Homo sapiens: one gene and its partner. The main gene of each other region encodes a partner of the protein of the gene in region 2 in a complex. Each region holds a gene or a part of one and is shown on either strand. Other genes may lie near its edges.

What was found.
Region 1: SAP18 (region 2) and RNPS1 share a complex: the UniProt entries of both Homo sapiens proteins name them as parts of the heterotrimeric ASAP (apoptosis- and splicing-associated protein) and PSAP complex.

Annotation. Positions count from the first base shown.
Region 1 is NC_000016.10:2,258,090-2,265,126, reverse strand, and holds part of RNPS1 (RNA-binding protein with serine-rich domain 1), read left to right. Parts: intron 1-366; 5' UTR 367-483; coding exon 484-554; intron 555-795; coding exon 796-951; intron 952-1,839; coding exon 1,840-2,031; intron 2,032-2,284; coding exon 2,285-2,387; intron 2,388-2,695; coding exon 2,696-2,849; intron 2,850-7,037. UniProt on the Homo sapiens protein: Part of pre- and post-splicing multiprotein mRNP complexes. Auxiliary component of the splicing-dependent multiprotein exon junction complex (EJC) deposited at splice junction on mRNAs.
Region 2 is NC_000013.11:21,143,093-21,149,608, reverse strand, and holds the end of SAP18 (histone deacetylase complex subunit SAP18), read right to left. Parts: intron 4,518-6,516; coding exon of another isoform or gene 4,325-4,517; intron 2,805-4,324; coding exon 2,682-2,804; intron 2,424-2,681; coding exon 2,267-2,423; 3' UTR 512-2,266; downstream 1-511. UniProt on the Homo sapiens protein: Component of the SIN3-repressing complex. Enhances the ability of SIN3-HDAC1-mediated transcriptional repression. When tethered to the promoter, it can direct the formation of a repressive complex to core histone proteins.

The DNA of each region.
Region 1 (7,037 bases), on a different chromosome or scaffold from region 2:
TAGGTTTTTCTCTGTTCTGCATGTGAATGTGGTGCTGTGGCATTTTGAAAGGACTGCAGGGGCTCATCAAACTTGTGGGTGAAAACTGAATTGTTCAGCCTGTAAAATAACAGTGATGGTCTCCACCATCTCCATTTTTTAAGAAAAAGATACGCTGGGGCGACAGTTGTACCTGTGCCTCCTCTGCGGGGTAGAGACGCCTCCAGGAGCACATGGGGACTGTCCCTATGTGTTCCTGACTGTGTGGACACTTATTGCTTACCGTGCTCCCTTGCTGCCTTTTTGTGTGCTCAGCTTTTGACTGCAAAGTAGACTTGTTGCCTTGCCAATTCGTTCACTCTTTAAACCCTTTTATCTTGTTATTAGGCTGCTCTTTGGCGTAAATTGCAATCGATTAGGGATCGTTTCTCAGAATCAAGTTAGAAGTGAGAGTTCAGATAAGTGAGGCCGCCATTGCTGCTTTGAACACCTCAGAAGGGGAGAATGGATTTATCAGGAGTGAAAAAGAAGAGCTTGCTAGGAGTCAAAGAAAATAATAAAAAGTCCAGCACTAGGTAATCCTTCTGTAAGATTTTTCTAGTGCTACTTGGGGGTGCTTACTGCTAGGGACCCGCAGAAAGGGGAAAGTTGAGAATGTTCTGCATTCTACAGTGAGTGTTCTGAGCCACAGACCACTTTGCTCTGTGGTCACCTCGGGTCTCTGTGGCCCTGCTGATGCTGATCCCCCGTTTTGGGTTGTGCTGTTTGGGTTTGGTCAGAGGAGCACGCAATCTCACACTCTTCCTCACCATCCAGGGCTCCTTCACCTACCAAACGCAAAGACCGCTCAGATGAGAAGTCCAAGGATCGCTCAAAAGATAAAGGGGCCACCAAGGAGTCGAGTGAGAAGGATCGCGGCCGGGACAAAACCCGAAAGAGGCGCAGCGCTTCCAGTGGTAGCAGCAGTACCAGGTGGGGCGGGCTGGCCTGGAGCCTGGAGAGGACCTGTGCCACAGCTACACCCCCACTCCCCACAGATGGCTCGGTTTTCTTGATTATTTACAAAGAAAACACATCCTCTGATTGTTAGTAGAGACCCTAATTTATGGCAGACTGGCTAGGTGCAGTGGTGGCTCATGCCTATAATCCCAGCACTTTGGGAGGCCGAGGCAGGAGGATTGCTTGGGGCCTGGAGTTCAAGACCAGCATGGGCAACAAAACAAGAGCTCGTCTCTACAAAAAAAAAAAAAAAAGAGTAATTTGTAAAATTAGCTGAGCGTGGTGGCATGCATCTGTAGTCCCAGCTACTTGGGAGGGCTGAGGCAAGAGGATGGCTTGAGCCCAGGAGTTTGAGGAAAATAAACAAAACTAGCCGGGTGTGGTGGTACACGCCTGTACTCCCAGCTACTCGGGAGGCTGAGTCAGGAGGATGGCTTGATTCCAGGGGGTTGAAGCTGCAGTGTGCGGAGATCATGCCACTGCACTCCAGCTTGGGTGGCAGACCCTGTCTCAAAAGAAAAAATCAACCTAGCCTGGGTCAGCATCAGCCAGCAGCTGCCTTCCCAGCCTGAGTTGGCAGTTGTGACTTTTGCCAGAGTCCTTTGCCTCCCAGCAGGAAAGGCTTCTGTATGGGTAGAAGGCAGCCCATCACCTCTGTCCTGTCCCACACACAATGTGACACCTAGGGCTCTGACTTGCTGGGGGATTGGGGGGTGATGTTTTCCCCACTGCTGAAAGCAGTGAGGCCTGGAGGCACCCGAACAGCAGGTTTCTCCTGGGGGGAGCACAACAGAATTGGAGGAGGCGTCTGTACTGTGAGACTTGGTGTGTGGTGGTTGTGACCCCTCATCTTGCCCTCAGGTCTCGGTCCAGCTCGACTTCCAGCTCAGGCTCCAGCACCAGCACTGGCTCAAGCAGTGGCTCCAGCTCTTCCTCAGCATCCAGCCGCTCAGGAAGCTCCAGCACCTCCCGCAGCTCCAGCTCTAGCAGCTCTTCTGGCTCTCCAAGTCCTTCTCGGCGCAGACACGACAACAGGAGGCGCTCCCGCTCCAAGTGAGTGCCCTGCGCCTGGGAGCTAAAGTTTACAAGCTCGGGGCTACAGATTTACCATCGAGGTTATAAAAGGGACCCAAAAGGAGTCTTTCTGTGTTAATAGGATTTCTGAGACAGGAATAATGTATGTGAACTAGCAGGAAAGTCTTCCTTATGAAAACTGTCACACAAGCAGATAAGAGCTTACTCGAAAGGCGTCTAGTACATTTTGACTTGACAGAAATTGTTTCTGGTGTTTTGTTTTCTCAATCAGATCCAAACCACCTAAAAGAGATGAAAAGGAGAGGAAAAGGCGGAGCCCATCTCCTAAGCCCACCAAAGTGCACATTGGGAGACTCACCCGGAATGTGACAAAGGTGAGGATCATGGATCTCTCCTGTGGGCAGTGGGGTGTGGACAAGCAGGCCTGTGCCTGCAGATGAACTTAGAATGTAGCCTTTTGGAGGACTGGGGTGGTGGCATGTGGTTTGAGTACAGCATTGATTCGTTCCTCTTGGTGGACCATTAATACATGTGTCTGGGAGATTTATCCCAGAACAACACTGGTACTCATCAGATGGAATGTTTTACCCTGCCGAGGTTTTAGTCATGATGTGCTGAGCTCTCTGCGTCTGACGTGACTGACTGGTAGCTGGGCGTTGGCGTGACCCTTCTTTCCCTCTAGGATCACATCATGGAGATATTTTCCACCTATGGGAAAATTAAAATGATTGACATGCCCGTGGAAAGGATGCATCCCCATCTGTCCAAAGGCTATGCGTACGTAGAGTTTGAGAATCCAGATGAAGCCGAGAAGGCGCTGAAGCACATGGATGGAGGTGGGTGACCCTGCCACATAACCCTGACCTCTCAGAGACCCGCCGCCGCGAGGGGCTTTCAAACTGATTTCCAACTGGGCTGCACTTCTTTTTGTTTGTTTGAGACAGAGTTTCACACTTGTTGCCCAGGCTGGGGTGCAGTTCCTGGACCAAACTGAGGTTTGGGCTGCTATTTCTCATGGCCCAATAACAAGATGCACATTAACTGAGTAGGTGGAGTTTTTATTTCTGCAACCAGTTGCAGGGAAAAGGCCTGGAAATTATTGCCAGACCAACTTAAAATTACAAAGTTTTTCAGAGCTTATATATTTTTTAAGCTATATGTCTATACATATGTGTACATTTATGTAAAGACATAAGTTACTGACTTTTAATCTATTAACTAAGGATTGAGTCTTGAAGACCTTCCTCTGGAGCCTCAGTAAATTGACTTAATTTAAATGGCTGTGAGTGCTGGGGTAATTACCCTTGCTTTGCCTTCTGCTAAATCACAGCAGTTTGGGGAGTTTTCTTCCCAATAAAACTGGCTTAATCCTAAATGGGTCCTGACGTATTCTTCGTTATTTTATGTTTTAAGGCCCAGGAAAGGCCTAAGCTAAACTTTTGGTGGGCTTTTCTTATATCCCAGCCTTTGTATAAGGGCCTTGGCTTTTAATATTTAACTACTCAGACAGTACTAAAACACTTGTTACAGAGGCCTGCGTTAGTGAGACCTGGCCTGCCACAATCCCCACTGTCAATTTGCTCATGCTTTTTATCATGCATGTATATGTATTTATTAATCACGAGAATCGTAGGGAGATGAAGCATTGTAATCTTTCTGGCTGCTTCCTGCTGAGAGAGGGTTGTCGTCATGGGGCACCAAACACAGCGCTGGAGTGGAAGAGGTGGATTTGTTCCCGGTAGCACTTTCTGTTCTGGGGGCTTCGAGGCAGCACCTGCTGAAACGTAATAGGATGCAACAGCCACACATAGAAGTAGGTTGCTGCTGTTTTCTTCCCAAGTTTAGTCTTCAGTTTACAGGGCTTGAGGAAAGCATAGCTTAGATTTCAGTGATTTCCAATTAGGAAAAAGGAAACAAAAAAGGAAAAAATTGAGAACAGTATTTGGGTGTACTATAGTTTTTGAAACAATTTTTTTTTTTTTTTGAGACGGAGTCTGGCTCTGTCGCCCAGGCTGGAGTGCAGTAGCACCACCTCGGCCCACTGCAAGCTCTGCCTACCAGGTTCATGCCATTCTCCTCCCTCAGCCTCCCGAGTAGCTGGGACTACAGGCGCCCACCACCATGCCTGGCTAATTTTTTGTATTTTTAGTAGAGACGGGGTTTCACCGTGTTAGCCAGGATGGTCTGGATCTCCTGACCTTGTGATCCGCCTGCCTCGGCCTCCCAAAGTGCTGGGATTACAGGCATGAGCCACCATGCCCAGCCAACAATTTTTTTTGGGGGCTTCCCATTTTTATTAAAAGACAAATAGGACTGGTATTTATTAAAAGACAAGACTGGTTTGCTTTATTATATTTGGCTTAATTATTTGTATACAGTGGAGCAAGAACCATAATTTTTTCTATAGGCCTTTTATCTGAGATAATACCTTTTTAAACCCAAGCCCAGCCATGGATATGTACAATTAAATACCTGTGAGTTGGGTGAAATCCTCTCCTCTTGAGGTTCCAAGATAACTTGAGGTTTTTGTCCATTAGAAAGTGGCATGTTTTACTTCCCTCAGATTAGAAACCCTGTACAGGGACTGTGTACACAAAATAGGAGGCCGGTTTTTTATTTGTGTTCTGTTACAAAAGAAAACGGATTTTTATTGCACTTACGCAAATAACTATATTGCTATAAATTAAGAATACGTACAAATAGACTGGGCAACATGGATCACCTGAGGTCAGGAGTTTGAGACCAGCGTGGCCAACATCGTGAAACCCCGTCTCTAATAAAAATACAAAAATTAGCCGGGCATGATGGCACACACCTGTGGTCCCAGCTACTTGGGAGGCTGAGGCAGGAGAATTGCTTGAACCTAGGAGGCAGGGATTGCAGCGAGCCAAGATTACGCCACTGCACTCCAGCCTGGGCAACAAAGTGAGACTAGGTCTCAAAAAAAAAAAAAAAAAAAAAAAAAAGAATACACACACACACACAAATAGTTTCCAAATTCTGAAGAAATTAGGTAGAGAGAAACAAATATGCTCCAAGTTTTGTTCCTAGGCGTATACTTAATTGTTGATAGCTTAAAACTTTTTTTGACTTTGAAAAATAAAAGGATTAGGAATATTTTAAGCAAAAAGTTAAAAAGATTACTTCAGTGTTCTATTAGTTCAGTTTATGCAGTTAATTTCTGCCCTGCTTGATATTAATGAACGCTTTACCTTTCTTTTTTTTGAGACGGAGTCTCGCTCTGTCGCCCAGGCTGGAGTGCAGTGGCGCAATCTCGGCTCACTGCAAGCTCCACCTCCTGGGTTCACACCATTCTCCTGCCTCAGCCTCTCGAGTAGCTGGGACTGCAGGCACCGGCCACCACACCCAGCTAATTTTTTGTATTTTTAGTAGAGATGGAGTTTCACCCTGTTAGCCAGGATGGTCTGGATCTCCTGACCTCGTGATCCGCCCGCCTCAGCCTCCCAAAGTGCTGGGATTACAGGCGTGAGCCACTGCACCCGGCCTTATTTTAGCTCTTTAAGAGTCCTGAATGTTTTTTCTTTATTCTGATGTCACAATCTGCAAAGTTATTAGAAATCTGTATTTAAGAGCAACTGTTAGAACTCTATAGCTGATTATAAAACCACCTTCTAAAAAGGATTAAAACAAGACAACAATTGTTTATGGATGACAAAAAGGTTTTAGGGCAGCCATAGTTAAAGACACAATTGACGAAATTTGTTAGCTCTGTGGCACACAATAATTTAACATAACAATTATAATTATTACTGATCATGTACACTAGGATATATTGCAATTGTAGGAGTTTTACGTGATTTTGGGACACATATCAATAACATTTATACAAATACAGCCCAAACAAAGCCAAACCCAATTTTATATTTGGTAGTGCTTCCTGTATAATTTTTGGTACCAAATAAGCCAAATTTCACTTTTACATCAGTGTGCTGTTAATGTTAAAACCCAATCCTTTTTTTTTTTTTTTTTGAGACTTTTTTCTGCTCTTGTTGCCCAGGCTGGAGTACAATGGTGCAATCTTGGCTCACTGCAACCTCCGCCTCCTGGGTTCAAGCAGTTCTCCTGCCTTAGCCTCCCGAGTAGCTGGGATTACAGGCAACCTCCACTATATCCAGCTAATTTTTGTATTTTTAGTAGAGACATGGTTTCACCATGTTGGCCAGGTTGGTCTTGAACTCCAGACCTCAGGTGATCCACCCGCCTTGGCCTCCCAAAGCAGCTGGGATTACAGGTGTGAGCCACTGCGCCCGGCCTAAACGTAATTTTAATGCTTAATTTACAGAAAAACTAGATGATACCCCTTTAACTTTAGCCAGCATGTTTACATACAGAATTTTCTTTACAATCAACCTCCCACACCTTTTTTTGAGACAGAGTCTTGCTCTGTCGCCCACGCTGGTGTGCAGTGGCATGATTTTGGCTCACTGCAACTTCCACCTCCTGGGTTCAAGCAATTCTTCTGCTTCAGCCTCCCCAAGTAGCTGGGATTACAGGCTCCCGCCACCACACCTGGCTAATTTTTGTGTTTTTAGTAGAGATGGGGTTTCACCATGTTGGCCAGGCCTGTCTCAAACTGCTGACTTCAGGTGATCCTCTCGCCTCAACCTCCCAAAGTGCTGGGATTACAGGCGTGAGCCAACGCGCCCGGCATGGATTCCAGTTCTTAGTGGGTGTGTGATTACCGAAAAGATGTTTTAGGAACACCTTTTTTTTGTAGCTCCAGTTTAAAGGAACACTATTCTTGGGGGAAAAAAATTAGCAAATATGCGTAGATTAACATTTTAGAGAGTTTCCAATCTGTTAAAAGCTTAAGGATCAAATTCAGTTTTCTTACATAGAATACATTTGGCTTTTTATATGGGAATATTTCCTTTAATCATTTCTGAGAACCAGAAGTTTCCCAGTATTTCAGCATTTTTAGTTTATTTTGCTGAGTGACTGGATTTACTGAATCTATACAGTTTATTTCTTAAACACTTGTATCTCATAACCACTCATGACGT
Region 2 (6,516 bases):
TATTGGGATGTAGCCCCATAATAAGCTGAGGACCGTAGTGAATGGCTTATCGCTTATGCGCCACTGCAAAGCTGAAAAATCTAAAGTTGAACTATCATAACTTGGGAACCATCTGTGTTTGGCACAAGTAAACACTTAAATCATAGTTACAAACTTGATTTAGAGTGTTGCCTTCTATTTCACAAAAACAAGTCTGAAATGTGTTTAATTGAACAAGAAAGAGGTGCATCAAGTTCAGCTCCTTATTATGTTCAACTTTAGAGAATTTTAAACCTAGCCTAATAATGTTTCTTTCTACATTCACACCTGCCCCTCACATGCATACAACCGATACCTAAAACATTACCTGAGTCAATGATCAGCTGGGCATAACCGTCCCAGTTTTTGTACACCGTGAAAAACTAAAAAGACATTATAGGCAATATCATGTACTGTAACACATATTCCAAAGGGAAAACGTCAATTCCAAAATACCTAGGAGCAAATGAGGCAACCAGGGCAGACACTAAAGCACTGAGCAAGATGCTGTCATGATGACTACTTATTTATTTCTATTTTATATGCGGGGAAACAGCTCAGTTATTACTCAAAGCCACACTTACCAAAGCCAGAGGTAAACTAGTACAAGTCTTTTGATTCTTAGCATTATATTCAATAAATTCACTAGGTATTCTCTAACTGTACTTTTGATGGGATATTGAAATCTTTAAAGGAGAAATTCCATGTTGGAACCAAGCAAAGGGTGGAATTTGACAAAGCAGCCCAACCACTTTGGCTTACAAAGTCCTTTATTTAGTTCCTACCCTCTTCATCTGCATAGTAAATCATAGGGTTCCCCCCCACCCCCACCACGAATAGCAGTTAATCATGGCTATTCTCCAAAAAGCTAGGTGCAAATTAACTTTATGGCTCCAGTCTATCTAATCTGAATGAATAAACAACCTAAAGGTTTGGGGTAAACCACAGCACAGAAGAAGCACCAGATCTAGGCTCCAGGCTGGTCTCTGCCATTGCTAACAGGGACACCAATTCCACAGAATCATCAGATTTTAAATGGCTGTTTTTGTATGTACCAGATAAAACTAGTGCAATTTTATTGCTGCTGGTACTTTTTTTTTTAAATTTTGGGATATACATTTTCAATTGGCTACTGTAACAAACTAAAGGGAATTTACAATACACTGTCGTACTGTTCATAAACTTCAAAATGAGAGTAGTGCCATGGAAGAAAAGAGATCCAGTTTTAATACCACTTTATGGCCAATAATCAGTATTTATTGTTTCTCATTTGTCAGGCACCATTCTAAGCTCTTTTAAAATATTCAGTCTTAACAATCCTATAGGCCGTTATCTCCGTTTTACAAAATAAAGATTGAAATAATTTATCCAAGGTTGCAGAGTCACTGCTGCAATCAGGACTTCAATGTTCTGCTGCACTGTCTTCATCACTGCTTTACTGCCTCTCAGATCAGATGCACGCCACTACCTAGCACACAAGAGGATGTGTGAACACCTCCTACTCATTCAACCTGACCTTGTCCTTGGCTCTTCTCCCTCGGTCTTAAGATTCCTCCTTCACCCCTCCCTCCATTTGCAGATCTCCAGGGTTAATTAAACCTTTCTACCTCTACCCAAACCCTTGTTTCCTCTGAACTGGTTCCAGCCTTTAAAATGCCCTATTCCCCACATGTTAAAAACTTAAGTGCTCATTGTGTTGCCTGTTCTTTAACCTTTTATGTCATGGTACCCTGATCAAGGCGGGGCAATCTCGTCCAACACAGCTTCTTCAACTTGCCGCAGCTTATTCCAAACTGCCTCTGCTGCCACTTGAGCTCACTCTCACGTGTCCTTTCCAACTGCATACAGCAGTCTACACCACAAACTCATGTTTGATTTCATACAATCCCGTGGCTTTCTTGTTCTGCCCCTTTGGGCTTAACCATACGCTCCTCCACTACTTAGTATAAACCCTGTTCCCAGGCCTCCATTAACTTTCACACTCAGGCTGATTACACACATATATTTAACAGTACAGTTTTACACAGAATGCTAAGAGCACTTTTCTTCATATTTTACAGAAGGGCTTGAAACATACAGACTATTCGTAATCATACAATAGCACATCCAAATCTAACTCCTAAATAGATGATGCATTATAATTTGTTTAGAATTTAAAGGCTTAATGGCAATAATCAGGGGAGGAAGAAGAGTATGTTTATTTTACATAACTGACGGAAAAATAAATTCAACAAATAGTAAATAGAATTTAATATGGTCTCATGCGCCCTGAAGGAGGTGGTGCCCGATTTGGAGGGGTAATTGCTATGTCCAAGTAATCTCCTATCTGGAACTTCTGCGACTGCAGGGTCATGGAATCATCAGTCCCCTTTCTGCCAGACATGGTGCTGCCAATCTCCTTAACTCTGTAAGAAAGAAAATCAACTGTTAATGGATCCAAATCAATGAAACCCAGTATGTACTACAAAGTGAATATGGCACTGGATTTTCTCCATCATTTTATAACACACTTCCAAAATTTAACTACTTTATTAAGCCAAACCACGTATTAATATAAACCCATATTCTCCCACTAACAAGATTCATTGAAGGAGTTATCTGTATCAGTTAAAACATACTAAAAACAAAGAGATTACAGGACTTAAAAATGAGAAGTTACCTACCGATAGCCAGGTCTTTTAACATCTGTAAAAACGATTGCAAAATTGAAGTGAGTGCCCTTCTTTCTAGCTTCTGGGTAGACTTCTTTTACTAAGCTTGTCAGTTCTTTCAAGGTTGCATCCATCCTGGATTTTTTTTAAAAAAGACATTTACATTTGCTTATTAATCAGCAATAATATTAAAAGGGATACTAACAATGAGTTAATTACATATATCTGAGTTGTGATTTACATTAGAAACTGCCAGGGTCTTATACTAGAGATTAATTTTAAAGCAGCTAAAAATACTATTTGCCTCCAAAAACTCCATGTACCAGCCTTACTGCTGGAAATTTCAATTAATTAGACTCTTAGTGCTAAAAGGGACTTCAGAGATTCTATATGCTATCTTCTGTTGCTACACAACACCTTATGGCCTAGTGATTTACCTAAGGGTAACTAGTCCAAATAAATCCAAATATGCAAAATAGATGTATCCCATTAGTTCTAAGACATGTACCCTTCCACATTTTAGCATCTCTGAAATTGGAATGTATCTTAGAATCAATGTACTAGGAAAGCATTTTCATACTGACGTTTTGTTTTTGAGAGAGTCTCGCTCTGTCGCCCAGGCTAGAGTGCAGTGGCGTGACCTCAGCTCACTGCAACCTCCGCCTCCCAGGTTCAAGCAATTCTCCTGCCTCAGCCTCCTGAGTAGCTGGGATTACAGACGCCCACCACCACGCCCAGGTAATTTTTCTATTTTTAGTAGAGACAGGGTTTCACCATGTTGGCCATGCTGGTCTCGAACTCCTGACTTCAAGTGATCCACCTATCTTGGCCTCCCAAAGTGCTGGGATTGATTACAAGCGTGAGCCACTGCGCCCAGCCAGATGTGTTTCTTCTTTCTTAGATAGAATTGTAAGTTTTACAACAGATAAGAGTACTAGAGCCAATGAAATATACAAAAGTTTCTTACAATGAAGCACAGGCTCTTGTCACAATAGTTTCTTACCCTGCAAATATTGACTTGAATCCAACTTTCATATAGTCCCCTGAGCTAATAAGAGAACAATCTGAAAAAAATATTTTAACATATAAGCATCTTAGAAATAACCTAGTATACATTTTTTTGCCAGGTGCGGAGGCTCATGCCTGTAATCCCAGCACTTTGGGAGGCCAAGGCGGGTGGATCACCTGAGGCCAGGAGCTCAAGTTCGAGAGCAGCCTGGCCAACATGGTGAAACCCCGTTTCTACTAAAAATCCAAAAATTAGCCAGGCGTTGTGGCACACATCTGTAGCCTATAATCCCAGCTACTCGAGAGGCTGAGACAAGAGAATCGCTTGACCTGGGAGGCGGAGGCTGCAGTGAGCCAAGACTGTGCCACTGTGCTCCAGCCTGGGTGACAGACTGAGACTCTGTCTCAAAAACAAAAAAACCTGAGGTCACATTGGTTTATCTGTCTCAGAGGTGACCTTTTTTCAACCTGATATTTTGATGTTAACTATTCTGTATCAATTATAGGTTCAGTATCCCTTACCCAAAATACATGGGACTAGAAGCGTTTTAGGTTTTTTCAAATTTTAGAATTTTTGCATATACGTAAGATATCTTGGGGTTGTGACCCAAGTTTAAATAAGAAACTCATTTATGTTTCAAACATACCTTATACACAGCTGGAATACAATTTTATACATCATTTTAAGTAATTGTGTGCATGAAAGGAAGTTTGGTGCACGCCTGTAATCCCAGCTACTCAGGAGGCTGAGGCAGGAGAATCGCTTATACCTGGGAGGCAGAGGTTGCAGTGAGCCGAGATCGCGCCACTGCACTCCAGCCTGGATGACAGAGCAAGACTCTGTCTCAAAAAAAAAAAAAAAAAAAGAGGTCAAGAACTTATGTGTGCAATTTTCCACCGGTGTCACGTCAGCTCTCAAAAGTTTCAGATTTTGTGGCATTTCAGATTTTGGACTTGCGATGCTCAGTCTATATTCTGATACACAGTACATACTTATGATGATATATACCAGAAAGAATTTTTTCCTTTCTAAAAATATTTTCAATATTGTCTTGCTCTTAATTAATTTGGGGGATTTATATCACACCTTTTATCAGTTCTGACAGTGTGAAACCTACACAAGCTTCCCACCTTCTAAGGACTGTCTTTCCAGACCAACAATTGGAGTGCCAAGTGTTGCTTTTTCATCACTAGTCAGAAGCTTGAGGACAGGGTGGGGTTCAGTACTTGTGTCAGCTTGACGAAGCTACAGTCCCCAGATATTCAACCAAACACTAACCTAGGTATTGCTGTGAGATATTTTATAGATGTGACTAAAGTCAACAACCAATTGACCTTAAATTCAGAGGTCTATCCTATATAATCTGGGGAGGCCTGATTCTATTAGTTGAAAGGCCCTAAGAGCAGCCTTTCCTTCCTGAGAACCTGCCCTACAGATTTGACAATTAAGGGCCTAGACAGCCCCCACAATCACGTAAACCAAATTCTTTGCAATAAAGCTTTTTTTTTTTTTTTTTTTTTTTTTTGAGATGGAGTCCCGCTCTGTCGCCCGGGCTGGAGTGCAGTGGCGCTGATCTCGGCTCACTGCAACCTCTGCCACCTGGGTTCAAGCAATTCTCCTGCCTCAGCCTCCCAAGTAGTTGGGATTACAGGCACCCGCCACCATGCCTGGCTAATTTTTGTATTTTTAGCAGAGACGGGGTTTCACCATGTTGGCCAGGCTGGTCTCCAACTCCTGACCTCATGACCCGCCCACCTCGGCCTCCCAAAGTGCTGGGATTACAGGCGTGAGCCACCACGCCCAGCAGAAATAAATCTCTTAACACATCTCTCCCAATTCTGTTTTTCTGGCTGAGCCCTGATTGACTTTGGTGAACACAGCCTGCCTCTACTGGGCTCCTCTGGACTTCCACTCCTGTTTCCATAACTTCTCTTGGGACTGCCTATTTAACCCCACAGTCTACTTCTCCAAATTGAGAATTTCCAGTATATGTTAACTAATTTTCCCTCATTACTATTTCTGGGAATGAGGGCAGGCCTTTGTGTTACCCCCATACCAATCATCCAGTCTTTCAGAATCTTTTCTTTGGCCACCATTTTGAGATGTAACTTAAAGTTGTTCCTTCTTTGTTTGGTTGCAATTTATGGACGGTATAGTTTAGGACAGGATTTTTTTGGTAATTTTTTTTCTTGATTCAGAGTGGAAGGTCTGTGGAACAACCTCACCCTGCCATTTTAACCCTAAAAATCACTCTATTCATCCGCTTTCCCTGATAAAAGGACTTACTACAGGGAGGAGCAGTACCGTCTTGACTTTATACCCTCAGGATCTAAGCACACACAGCACCTGGCAAATAGGAACTCTTGTTGGAAGAAACATACACTTTAATTTCTGAAGAGATTTTCATCAAGCCATTATTCAACAGTTCTTCCATATAAGCTAAATCAACCTTCCTAGAACACTTACCCTTGAGTGATGCTTAAGTACAGGTATCATACTACTACATAAATTTAACAAGCACCTCCAAATAAGACAAGTAAGGTCCCAATCTTCAAGGGATTAGCTCTAGTGTACAGGGCTTAAATAGTTTAAAATTATACATCTTTTGGGGAATATAAAATAGTGCAGCTGCTGTGAAAAAGTTTGGTGGTTCCTCAAAAATTAAACAAAGTTAACATATGACCCAGTAATCCCCTCCTAGGTACATACCCAAAAGAACTGAAAGCAGCGACACAAACACATTTGTATGCCAATGTTCACAGCAGCATTATTCACAATGGCAAAAAAGGTGAAACAACCCAAGTGTCCATCAATAGATGAGTACATATGTGATGCACA